3 linked regions of the Homo sapiens genome follow. The protein of the gene in region 3 purifies or fractionates together with the protein of the main gene of each other region. This does not show direct contact. Each region holds a gene or a part of one and is shown on either strand. Other genes may lie near its edges. The genes, in order: BRI3BP, UFD1 and ADORA1.

Region 1 (3,652 bases), on a different chromosome or scaffold from region 3:
TGTTTACCTGGCACACCATGGGGCACGGTAGAGAAAACGGGAAGGTTACTTCATCCTGAGAGCATGGGATGCCTCTGAAGCTCTTAAGGCGGTAAGGGACAAGGTCTCCTCTGGGTATAAAAGCTGTACACCCTGGGCACTCTGCCCGGGTTAGCTCCTGTCACCCACCGATGGAATGCAGGTGGAGGTGGGGCAGAGCCACCTGGGAAGGGGAGTGTAAGGCTGGGGGTAGCACAGGCTGCAGGACTGGACTAGGAGTGCCCAGCTCAGTTACCATGACCGTTGCTGCCTTGCCATCCGCCAAGACCAGTATCAGTGCCCCCTCCCACATGTAGAAAGGGAGGGGCCGTGCCTCACCAATGTTCTCTTCCTGATTATAAACGTGTGACTAGCACTGCACTATCAAACTGGACTACCCTCCTCCCCTAGCCCACAAAACCAGGGGCCAGCTCCCCTGGCAATTCTTGCCCTGTGCGGTGGGTATGGTGGATGGGCTGGTGCAGCATCAGGTGACACCTGCTCCCAGGCTGCCTTCCTGGATGGCAGAAGCTGGAGAGCTAAGAACCGCATTAGCCTGCCTCCCTCGCAGCTAGGGACTGGACAGAAAGTAAGTTCCACCTGGCAGTTCCCCCATACACACACGACTTTGGAAATTAAGTGAAGTGTTGCAGCTGATATGCATGGTTCCAGAAATGGCAAGGGTCCCTGCACCCACATGCAAAGTCTAGTTGTTGTGGCGGCAGCAGTGGCCTCCTGGTCCTCAAATTATACTACAGTTGTGTGACTTCGAACTCAACGGTTTCAACAGCTGCAACCCTGGACAGCCAGTTCGGCAGTGTCTGAGGCCATGCATCTCTTCCTCAGCCTTTCTGATGGTTCTGTGAGTGTCTCTGTCTCATGAAATCCCCTTCTGCCTAAATAACTAGTCATTTCTTGCACGGATGCCAGTAAGCCAGAGCACTATACCTCTGGTCCATGTGTTTTGCACACAAATTGGCACTCCCACTACCCAGTCGCACCTTATCCTAAGTGGCATCTGGGAAATCTCAGCTTTGATGGGCCATTTGTTTTTTATTTTTATGATTATTTGAGAGGAGTCTTGCTCTGTCGTCCAGTCTGGAGTACAGTGGCATGATCATAGCTCACTGCAGCCTCGAATTCCTCATCTCAGGCAATCCTCCTGCCTCAGCCTCCCAAGTGGATGGGGACTACAGGTGCACATCACTGCACCCAGCAATTTTTTTGTACTTTTTTTTTATAGAGATGGGATCTCACCATGTTGCCCAGGCTGGTCTTGAATTCTTGGGTTCAAGCAACCCTCCCACCTTGGTCTCCCAAAGTGCTGGGATTACAGGCATGAGCCACCATGCCTGGCCTATATATGAGACTATTAAAATAAAAAATGTTCACTCATATCCTCACTGACCAGCCCTCCGCAACCTTCTCATGTATTACTCACTGTGAGTACCAGTTCCACACTATGAGAACCACCAAAATAGAATGACACCTTACGTGAATGCCACCCCTACACCTACCGTCAAGTCCAAGAACATCCAAGAGCTCGGTCCAGACTTTCCACAGTGTCTCCACGAACATATCCACTCCCAGCACAAATCTCTCAGTCAGCCTGGCCAAGAACTGCAGAAACAAGAAAACGGTCATCACCCAATCACTGTTTTCCTCCATCAGTCAAGCAGTGAACTGGGGAGCTTGGGAGTTTATACCTGGGAAGGGAAAAATAGTGAGCCCATGATGAATACCACACATGTGGACTACTGGCCCAGGGGATTGACTTGAACTGGGTACTGATCACAGCCTAACTGAGAAAAACTGGTGAAAACGACCCCTTCCTTGCAAGGGCTGAACAAGGCACCTATGGAGGCTGGGACTCTCTGCAGGGCCGCGTTACGCCGCTTGCCATTGCTCCTGCTGTCTTTCATGCTTCCTCTTGGGTCAGGATCTCTGCCTTCCTCTGCCTGATTTCTCTAAAGAGACAGGGTCTCACTGTTGACCAGGCTGGAGTGCAGTGGTGCAATGATAGCTCACTGCACCCTCAAACTCCCGGGCTCAAGCAATCCTGCCTTAGCTTCCCAAGTAGCTAGGGCTACAGGTGCAGCCACCACACCAGGCTTTATTATTATTTTGTAGAGATGGGCTCTTGCTATGTTGTCCAGGCTGGTCTCAAACTCTAAGCCTCAAGCAGTCCTCCTGCCTGGCCCTCCCAAAGTCCTGGGATTATAGGCGTGAAACACTGCACCGCACCCTGCGGGTTTCTCATTTTTAAAGAGTGGAAGTTTCTGCTCCAAGGAAGCTGGTAATGATACAGCCCCATGCTCTATCCAACTCTAAGGACCCTGAGCCTCTGAGGTCTTTATTTGCCCTCCAGGTGACACAGGGCTAAAGAAACATGAATACAAGGTACAGCCTCATTTTAACTTTTTTTTTTAAAAAATTAGTGATATTGTATACATGTAGCATAAAACTCAAGCCTACCAACAGGTATTCAGTGGAGACTAAGCCTTCCCTCTCATTTCCTGGCAACTGGAATCCCCCTCCGGAGGAACCCTTCCTTAGACGTGCCAGGTGAATAATGGCACAGACATATTCTTTCTGCAATGGCAGCACAGGTGTACAGCTGAGCTGCTTTGCTCATGCAACACTCTGTCTTGGAGATACTCACACTCAGACCACACAGAGCTGCCTCATCCTTTTTAAACATGGTACACCTGGAGCCAGGCCCATACTCATGGATACCTACATGGTTTCCAGCCTTGGCTATTACAGGGGAAAAAACAGCGAGCCCATGATGAATGCCACCAAGTGGTCTACTGGCCCAGGGGATTAACTTGAACTTGATACTAATTGATGACAGCCCAACAACTGAGCAAAACTGAGTAAAACACGCCCCTTCCCTTGTAAGGGCTGACCAAGGTATCTATGGGGGCTGGGACTCTGCAGGGCTGCATCACGCAGAGTGCTGCCATAATAGAACCCACCTACATGGGCCACTCGGCTCACGTGTGAAGGGTAAATGCCTCCGTGAATTGGCTACAGCTTTTTTTTTTTTTTTTTTTTTTTAAGACAGGGTCTCGCTCTGTCACTCCGGCTGGAGTGCAGTGGTATGATCTCGGCTCACTGCAGCCTCCACCTCCCAAGTTCAAGCAATCCTCCCACCTCAGCCTCCCGAGTAGCTGGTACTACAGGCACGCACCATCACACTCAGGTAATTTTCATATTTTTAGTAGAGACGGGGTTTCACCATGTTGGCCAGGCTGGTCTTGAACTCCTGACCTCAGGTGATCTGCCCACCCCGGCCTCCCAAAGTGCTGGGATTATAGGCGTGAGCCACCACACCCGGGCAGCTACAGTATTTTATGTTTTAATTTAATTTTATTTTATTTGGAGTCTCGCTTTGTCGCCAGGCTGGAGTGCAAGTGGCACGATCTCGGCTCACTGCAACCTCCTCCTCCCAGGTTCAAGTGATTCTCCTGCCTCAGCCTCTCGAGTAGCTGCGACTACAGGCATGCGCCACCATGCCCAGCTAATTTTGTATTTTCAGTAGAGATGGGGTTTCTCCATGTTGGCCAGGATGGTCTCGATCTCTTCACCTTGTGATCCACCCATCTCAGCTTCCCAAAGTGCTGGGATTACA
Region 2 (3,043 bases), on a different chromosome or scaffold from region 3:
TCCAAATTTCCTCTTCTTAAAAGGACACCAGATTGAATTATGGCCAACTCTAATGGTCTTATTTTAACTTAATTGCTTCTTTAAATGGCCCTATCTGAGTTACTGGGGGTTAGGGCTTCAACACAGAAACACTGGAGGGACACAATCCAGCTCATAAGAGTTGGTACAGAATTTTAGGTTGGAAAAAATTTCCCCTCAGAATTTTGAGTATATTGCTCCACTATCTTCTAGTTTCCTCTGTGTCCTGCTAAGATGATGTCCCTTTTTTTGGGAGACAGGGACTTACTGTTACCCAGGCTGGAGTGCAGTGGTGTGATCTCAGCTCACAGCAGCCTCCACCTCCCAGGCTCAAGTGATGCTCCCAACTCAGCATTAAAGTAGCTGGGACTATAGGTGCGTGCCACCATGCTTGGCTAATTTTTAAAATTTTCTGTAGAGACAGGGTCTCCCTATATTGCCCAGGCTGGTCTCAAACTCCTGGGCTCAGATGATCTTCCCGCATCAGCCTCCCAAAGTGTTGGGATTACAGGTGTGAGCCATGGCGCTTGGCTGATGATGTCCTTAATGCATGGTGATACCTCTGTTCTCTCTCTAGAAGCTTTAGGATCTTTCTTTGCCTCAAAGTGGGGCTATTTTCATTCATTTTGCTGGAACTCAGTGAGCCCTTCAAATCTGCAAAATTGTGCCCATCTTTGGGGAAACTATTTCCCTGATGATTTCTGCTCCTTTGGTTTCTGTGGCTGTTCTTCCCACAAATCCTCTATTATTTAGATGCTGGAATGGAAAGCTTTCTGACTGTGGCCTTCACTTCAGAGATAGTAGTCTAGAGACCTACTGGAGTCGAGCCTCCAGCCTTCTGGGATGGGGGAGGGAGGGTAATGCAGCTCTAACTGCTTAGTAACAGAATTCTGTCTTTAGTCCCTCATTTCTAGAGGTGCCTTTTGAGAATTCCACAATCTACACAGAACTGCTTCTAGGCTTTCTATGGTCTACTAAGGTACCTGGGGCTTCCAAAGCCTTGTAGTTGCCTCCTCTTCCACTGTCTTTCTTACCTCATGACCTTTAGCCACAGCCTTAGTGGGGCTGCAGGATGGAATAGAGCTAAATATGTCTTCAATCCCATCTTTAAACATATACTTCTTAAATACATATTTATGGTCAAACAGGCCTGCTGTGCCCACTGGCCTCCCCTGCCTTCTGTAAATTTGCAACAGTCAGGTCACAGTCAGCCTGGGGGACGTCCCATGCTAAGGTCTTAGGTCGGAGTCAGGCACTGGCTTTTAGTGAGAAAGGCAGCCTGTAGCTGGTGAAGCCTGGATGGTGCCTGAAGGAGGAGCTGGAGGGTGAGGTCTGACTGGCCACTATGTTTGCTCCTCTGAGCCTGAAAGGTCCCAATGCCCAATGCTGTTTCAACTTGAACATTGAGCCCAGAAGTGGTTGTGAGTAGGACCAGGTGTGCAAACTTCACAGTGGTCTCTGTCCCCAACCACCCCAAGTGCTAGAGAAAAGAGTTCAGTAATTGGGATGGCTCCCATGTAGCAGCTGGTCCTGAATGGGTGGCTCAGTACATCTGCCCTCTGCCCTGATCCTGGATCCTCAAGGGTCCAATCCTTTGAGAAAAGGAACCAGGAGAGCGATGGGTCTGAAGCGCTGGTGTTGTAGAAATCCTCATCACAAAGAGGTGACTGCGTTCCAGTTGCTGCCAGGCCTGGCCATATTCCCACAAAGTGCCCATGTCTACAGGATGCTCAGCCCTTGCCTTCCTCTGTCCCGCCACCACCCTGCTCAGCTAGAAGGTGCTGCCTATATTTGAAGTTCAAGGTCTCTGTTGGAAGACGAAGCCCACCCAGGGCACACAGTTCTGTGATAACAGAGCCTGGAGTCGGCTCTAGAGCAAGACAGAGCTCCTGACCCCCATGCTGCAAGTCTTCTGTTTCATACACCCTACACCAGCTCTACAGAAAAAAACAGGACACCAGGGAGCAGAGGGACCCTAGGAAAGGGAAAACATGACAGACACCCTCATGTGGTTTGGCTGCGTCCCCACCCAAATCTCATCTTGAATTACCACGTGTTGTGGGAGGGACCAGGTGGGAGGTAACTGAGTCGGTGGGAGGTAACTGAGTCATGAGGGCGGGTCTTTTCCGTGCTGTTATCATGATAGTGAATAAGTCTCATGAGATCTGATGGTTTTATAAGTAGGTGTTTCCCTGCACCAGCTTTTTCTCTGCCTGCTACCATCCATGTAAGATGTGACTTGCCCCCTGCCATGATTGTGAGGCCTCCCCAGCCATGTGAACTGTAAGTCCATTAAACCTCTTTCTTTTGTAAATTGCCCAGTCTCGGGTACATCTTTACCAGCAGCTTGGAAACAGACTAATGCACACCCCTACTCAGAATGCCAAGAACTTCAGTCATCACTAGCAAATAAATCTCCTCATTACCAACCAAGGAAATACAAGGAAATACACTCACCTCTTCAACCTTTTTGACAAGGGGACGTGAATTTCTGATGAAAGTTATCTTACCAAGTTTAAATTCATAATTGGGAATTCCTCTGTAAGAAGAGACAGAGACAGAGAAATGTTATTTCCAGGAAAAAAGGACTAAAATTCATTTTTGACAGTCAAGAGGAACGCAGAAAAGATGCTGCTGCACCCCACCTGGGCCCTTTGGTGCTTCCTGGCATCCTCCCAGGAGGGAAGCAGAAAGTAACTGACTTCTTGGTTTGGTATCAATATTGGGTATAGGGCCAGGGGCTTTAGGCTCTGTACCTGTCTATGGAGAGGGGTCATCTGAAGGATTGGGAAGCCCTCACTGTCACTGTCCTGAGCTTCACAGAACCCCCTGAGGTGGCTAGACTCTCACTCCAGTATTCTGATTTCACACACACAACAGACAACTGACACACCTCAGCCCTGCCCCTGCCATCATGGCCACCAGAGGAAGGGTCTGCTGTGGGTCCCCGGACCCAGCAACAGAAGCACATCTGAGGTAGCTCCTCAGGGAACTTTCAGGGGAACTGAGATAATGTGACCTGATT
Region 3 (3,652 bases):
CGTGCCCCAGGACTTGCAGCCTCTGTTTCCTTTCCCACGTGTAAGGATAGGTGAGCTTCTCTCCTGGCCTTGGGAGGCAGCCCTTCCTGTGAGAGCCTGCCCCACCTCAGCCAAGGTCTTGGGTCCAGCCCTTTCCCACCAGGGAGAAAATAGCAAGAAAAACAGATGAGAGCTGATACCCTAAGCTGCAGGGTCTGCTGGGACTGGGTCCTGGAGGAGCCCCAGGAAAGCTTTAACCCCGGGGGCTCTGGGTGGTCAGAAGGGTGAGGGGTGAGGAGAGAAGAGGGGAGGGACCCACTTCTGTAGCTAGAAGTCTCCTCCCTCTCTCCTGTCTAGGGCTATCACTGTCTACCTCTCCTCTCTCCATAGGTCATCACTGCCCTGATGTCAGTCCCAGGCTAGATCCCCCAATCCATAGGCTGGACGGCAGCACCAGAGGTCACCTACCCCACCCCACTGACTCTGGGTGGTGCCTTCCTTGGGCAGAGTCTTGAAGTTCCCCTTTTAAATCTCTTAGGCAAGGGATATTTTCAACCTGCCAATCATCTGCATCTCAACAACCCACAGTCAGCCTGGCACCCTGAAGAAGAGCTGGGCTTGGAGTCAGGAGACCCAGGCCAGTGGAGCTTCTAATTTATGAAATGGGGATTCCCTTATCTGCTGTGCTCACCACAGCAGCAGTTATGAGGATTACCTGAGACAGGACTGAGAAAGGGATTTGTAAATGATAAATGTGGTATAAATGGCAGATGTGATGGGTGGTGGGGGTAGGCAGGACACCTGGCCCCGTCCTCTCTGCAGTGGCAGCTCGCTTTCCCTGCTGAGGTTCACCTGGGGATCTGGCCCCACTCTCCGCTGTGTGGCTGCTGAGACAGCATCCCTCAGCCTTCAGAATGACCTATGTTCCTTTGGTCTTTGCCCGTAGACTCATGCCCAGAACTTTTTCCACCATATCTGAGAGGACACCATATCTGTGGGGAACACATTGAGATGGTCAGGAACAAGATGTGAGCAAGATGTTTAAATAGCCCTTAGGCTGTGTTTGCTGAGCATCCAGAGATACTGGAGTTTTCCAGGTGGCCATTTGTCTGGGAGCTTGGAGGGGTAAGAAGAGCTCAGGCAAAGGAATACTGGTCGGATGTTTACAGAGTACTTGCACACGTAGTATCTCATTTGATCCTCCCCCTCTGAAGTAGGTCTCTTTTACAGAGGAGACATTGATCTAGCAAGTTGCAGACTGGCAGCCCGAGTTTGGGTCTTCTCACTCCCAGTGTCTGCACCAGGCCTGGCCATTCTGCTGAGGGTACAGAGGAGGGAATGGGCTTCAATTTCAGCAAGAGAGTGAGGATTGTATCTAAGAAAACTTCAGAGGCACAAGTGCACTGGTCACCTCTCAAGGCCCCTTGGTGGTGGTGGTTTGGGGCACAAGAATCCTATGATCACAGAGTAGGAGAGGGGAACTGCTCCAAAGGTGTTGGAGTCATCTAGTCCTCAATTTCTTCACTGGGACAATGAAGGGATAGAAAATGAGATTCCAAAGGTCTCTTCTAGTCCTTATCTTCTAGATGGGGTGGAGAGGGGCATCTGGTTCCTCCCACTGGGCAAATTGTCTCCCTTCCTACCCCTATAGCCTTCACAGAGCAGGTGGGCTTTGATGGATGGTGAAGGATCTAGGAGAAGCGTTGTCCGGGGCGAGACAGACTTTAAGCATCATCACCATGCAGGAGAAAGCCGCAGATTCTGCATCCCTGGGGCGGAAGGAAACAGTCGGCAGCCTCTCCCTTCACACTCCTGGGTCTCAGGAGCTATTTACATGCTCAGGAGGGCACTCCATCCATTTCAGAAGCCGCATTGGAAAATAACAACTGGGCAAGCTGCTGCTGCTCAGCTGGCTTCTCAGCACAGAGCTGGGTGAGACCCAGCCCTTGGCACTGTCTCCAAGGCCAGTATGTGGGCAGAAGCCATGATGGCTGCTGGCTAGATTGGTTTAAAGGGAAGTAGGAACCCCTGAGATATGAAAACGCCCAACCCTTGTGGCTCACGAGCAGCCTCGTCATCCAGATGTTTCTATCTTCTTTGTGGGTCATGACCTGAAAAAAGTTAGAAAGCTCTGGCCCTTGACTCAACCTATTTCCTTTAAAGGACATATCATGATCTATAGTTGTCTTGTTTATTTTCTTGCTTTTGTGTTATCTGTCTCTTCACCCAAAATGTGAGATATGTAGAAGCAGGGATCTTTTATCTTATTCTCAGCACAGGGAGCAATGCCTAGCACAGAAAGCACTCGACAAATGCTTGCTGAATGAATGCATCCACGTATGCATGCGTAAATGCATGAATGAATGACTGAAAGTATCTAGCATGTAGTAGATGCTCAGTGAATATCAGTTTTCTTTCCTGAGCATCATTCCCAGTTAGCTTGGGAGTGCAGAGCTGGTTCTTGAGATCAAGCCCTTAGGAGGTAAGTGCTGCACAGTGATTGGAAGGGGAAACAGGAGGTTCATATGGAGGTGGGAGATGGGGCATGGCAGGGGAGTATGGGACAAGGCCAAGGGAAGGGGGGTTGTGTGAAAGATTTTTTAAAATGACAGTTGTGTCTGCTGGCCCAAGAGAAGGGATGGTTTGTTAATCACTTGGGTGTTTCGGTCAGTGTAGACGTGTTTTAGGAAGCACGGAACAGCACTGCCACCTTCCATGTGGCCTTGGGCAGATCCTGTGATTACTTTGAACCTCAGTTTCCTCATCTGCCAATTGGGCAGTCCTCATTCTGCCGGTGACTTCCTACGCGACAAAGGCTGTCATGAAGCAATGATGAGATAACCAGTGGGGGCATGCTGAGCACATGGGAGCAATTTTTACTGTGGTCATTTCCTTGAAATTCATAAAGGAGCTCCTCTGTGATTTTCTATTATTATTTTTGTCATTAATCAGGATTTCCTCTCTCTGTAGGAGAATAAGCCAATGCATGGCAAGCACTAAATCTTAGATCCTGAAGACTCAGCCCTCGAGCAAAAGACATGCACCTCCCCACTCACCGGGCCCTGGAAGAGGAGGGTGCTCCTCTTAGAGGCCCCTGGAGGCCAGGCGTGCCTCAGAGGGGCCTTTCGAGGCAGCTGGGAGGCAGATCCTCACACTCTGCCCTCCTCTCCCCCAGGTACAAGATGGTGGTGACCCCCCGGAGGGCGGCGGTGGCCATAGCCGGCTGCTGGATCCTCTCCTTCGTGGTGGGACTGACCCCTATGTTTGGCTGGAACAATCTGAGTGCGGTGGAGCGGGCCTGGGCAGCCAACGGCAGCATGGGGGAGCCCGTGATCAAGTGCGAGTTCGAGAAGGTCATCAGCATGGAGTACATGGTCTACTTCAACTTCTTTGTGTGGGTGCTGCCCCCGCTTCTCCTCATGGTCCTCATCTACCTGGAGGTCTTCTACCTAATCCGCAAGCAGCTCAACAAGAAGGTGTCGGCCTCCTCCGGCGACCCGCAGAAGTACTATGGGAAGGAGCTGAAGATCGCCAAGTCGCTGGCCCTCATCCTCTTCCTCTTTGCCCTCAGCTGGCTGCCTTTGCACATCCTCAACTGCATCACCCTCTTCTGCCCGTCCTGCCACAAGCCCAGCATCCTTACCTACATTGCCATCTTCCTCACGCACGGCAA

The links.
Region 1: the proteins of ADORA1 (region 3) and BRI3BP purify together in Homo sapiens (affinity purification with mass spectrometry; one large-scale study listed by BioGRID and IntAct). This does not show direct contact.
Region 2: the proteins of ADORA1 (region 3) and UFD1 purify together in Homo sapiens (affinity purification with mass spectrometry; one large-scale study listed by BioGRID and IntAct). This does not show direct contact.

The regions. Positions count from the first base shown.
Region 1 is NC_000012.12:125,010,520-125,014,171, reverse strand, and holds part of BRI3BP (BRI3-binding protein precursor), read right to left. Parts: intron 1,639-3,652; coding exon 1,536-1,638; intron 1-1,535. UniProt on the Homo sapiens protein: Involved in tumorigenesis and may function by stabilizing p53/TP53.
Region 2 is NC_000022.11:19,452,274-19,455,316, forward strand, and holds part of UFD1 (ubiquitin recognition factor in ER-associated degradation protein 1), read right to left. Parts: intron 2,558-3,043; coding exon 2,476-2,557; intron 1-2,475. UniProt on the Homo sapiens protein: Essential component of the ubiquitin-dependent proteolytic pathway which degrades ubiquitin fusion proteins.
Region 3 is NC_000001.11:203,162,107-203,165,758, forward strand, and holds part of ADORA1 (adenosine receptor A1), read left to right. Parts: intron 1-2,949; exon of another isoform or gene 2,950-3,017; coding exon of another isoform or gene 3,018-3,154; coding exon 3,155-3,652. UniProt on the Homo sapiens protein: Receptor for adenosine. The activity of this receptor is mediated by G proteins which inhibit adenylyl cyclase.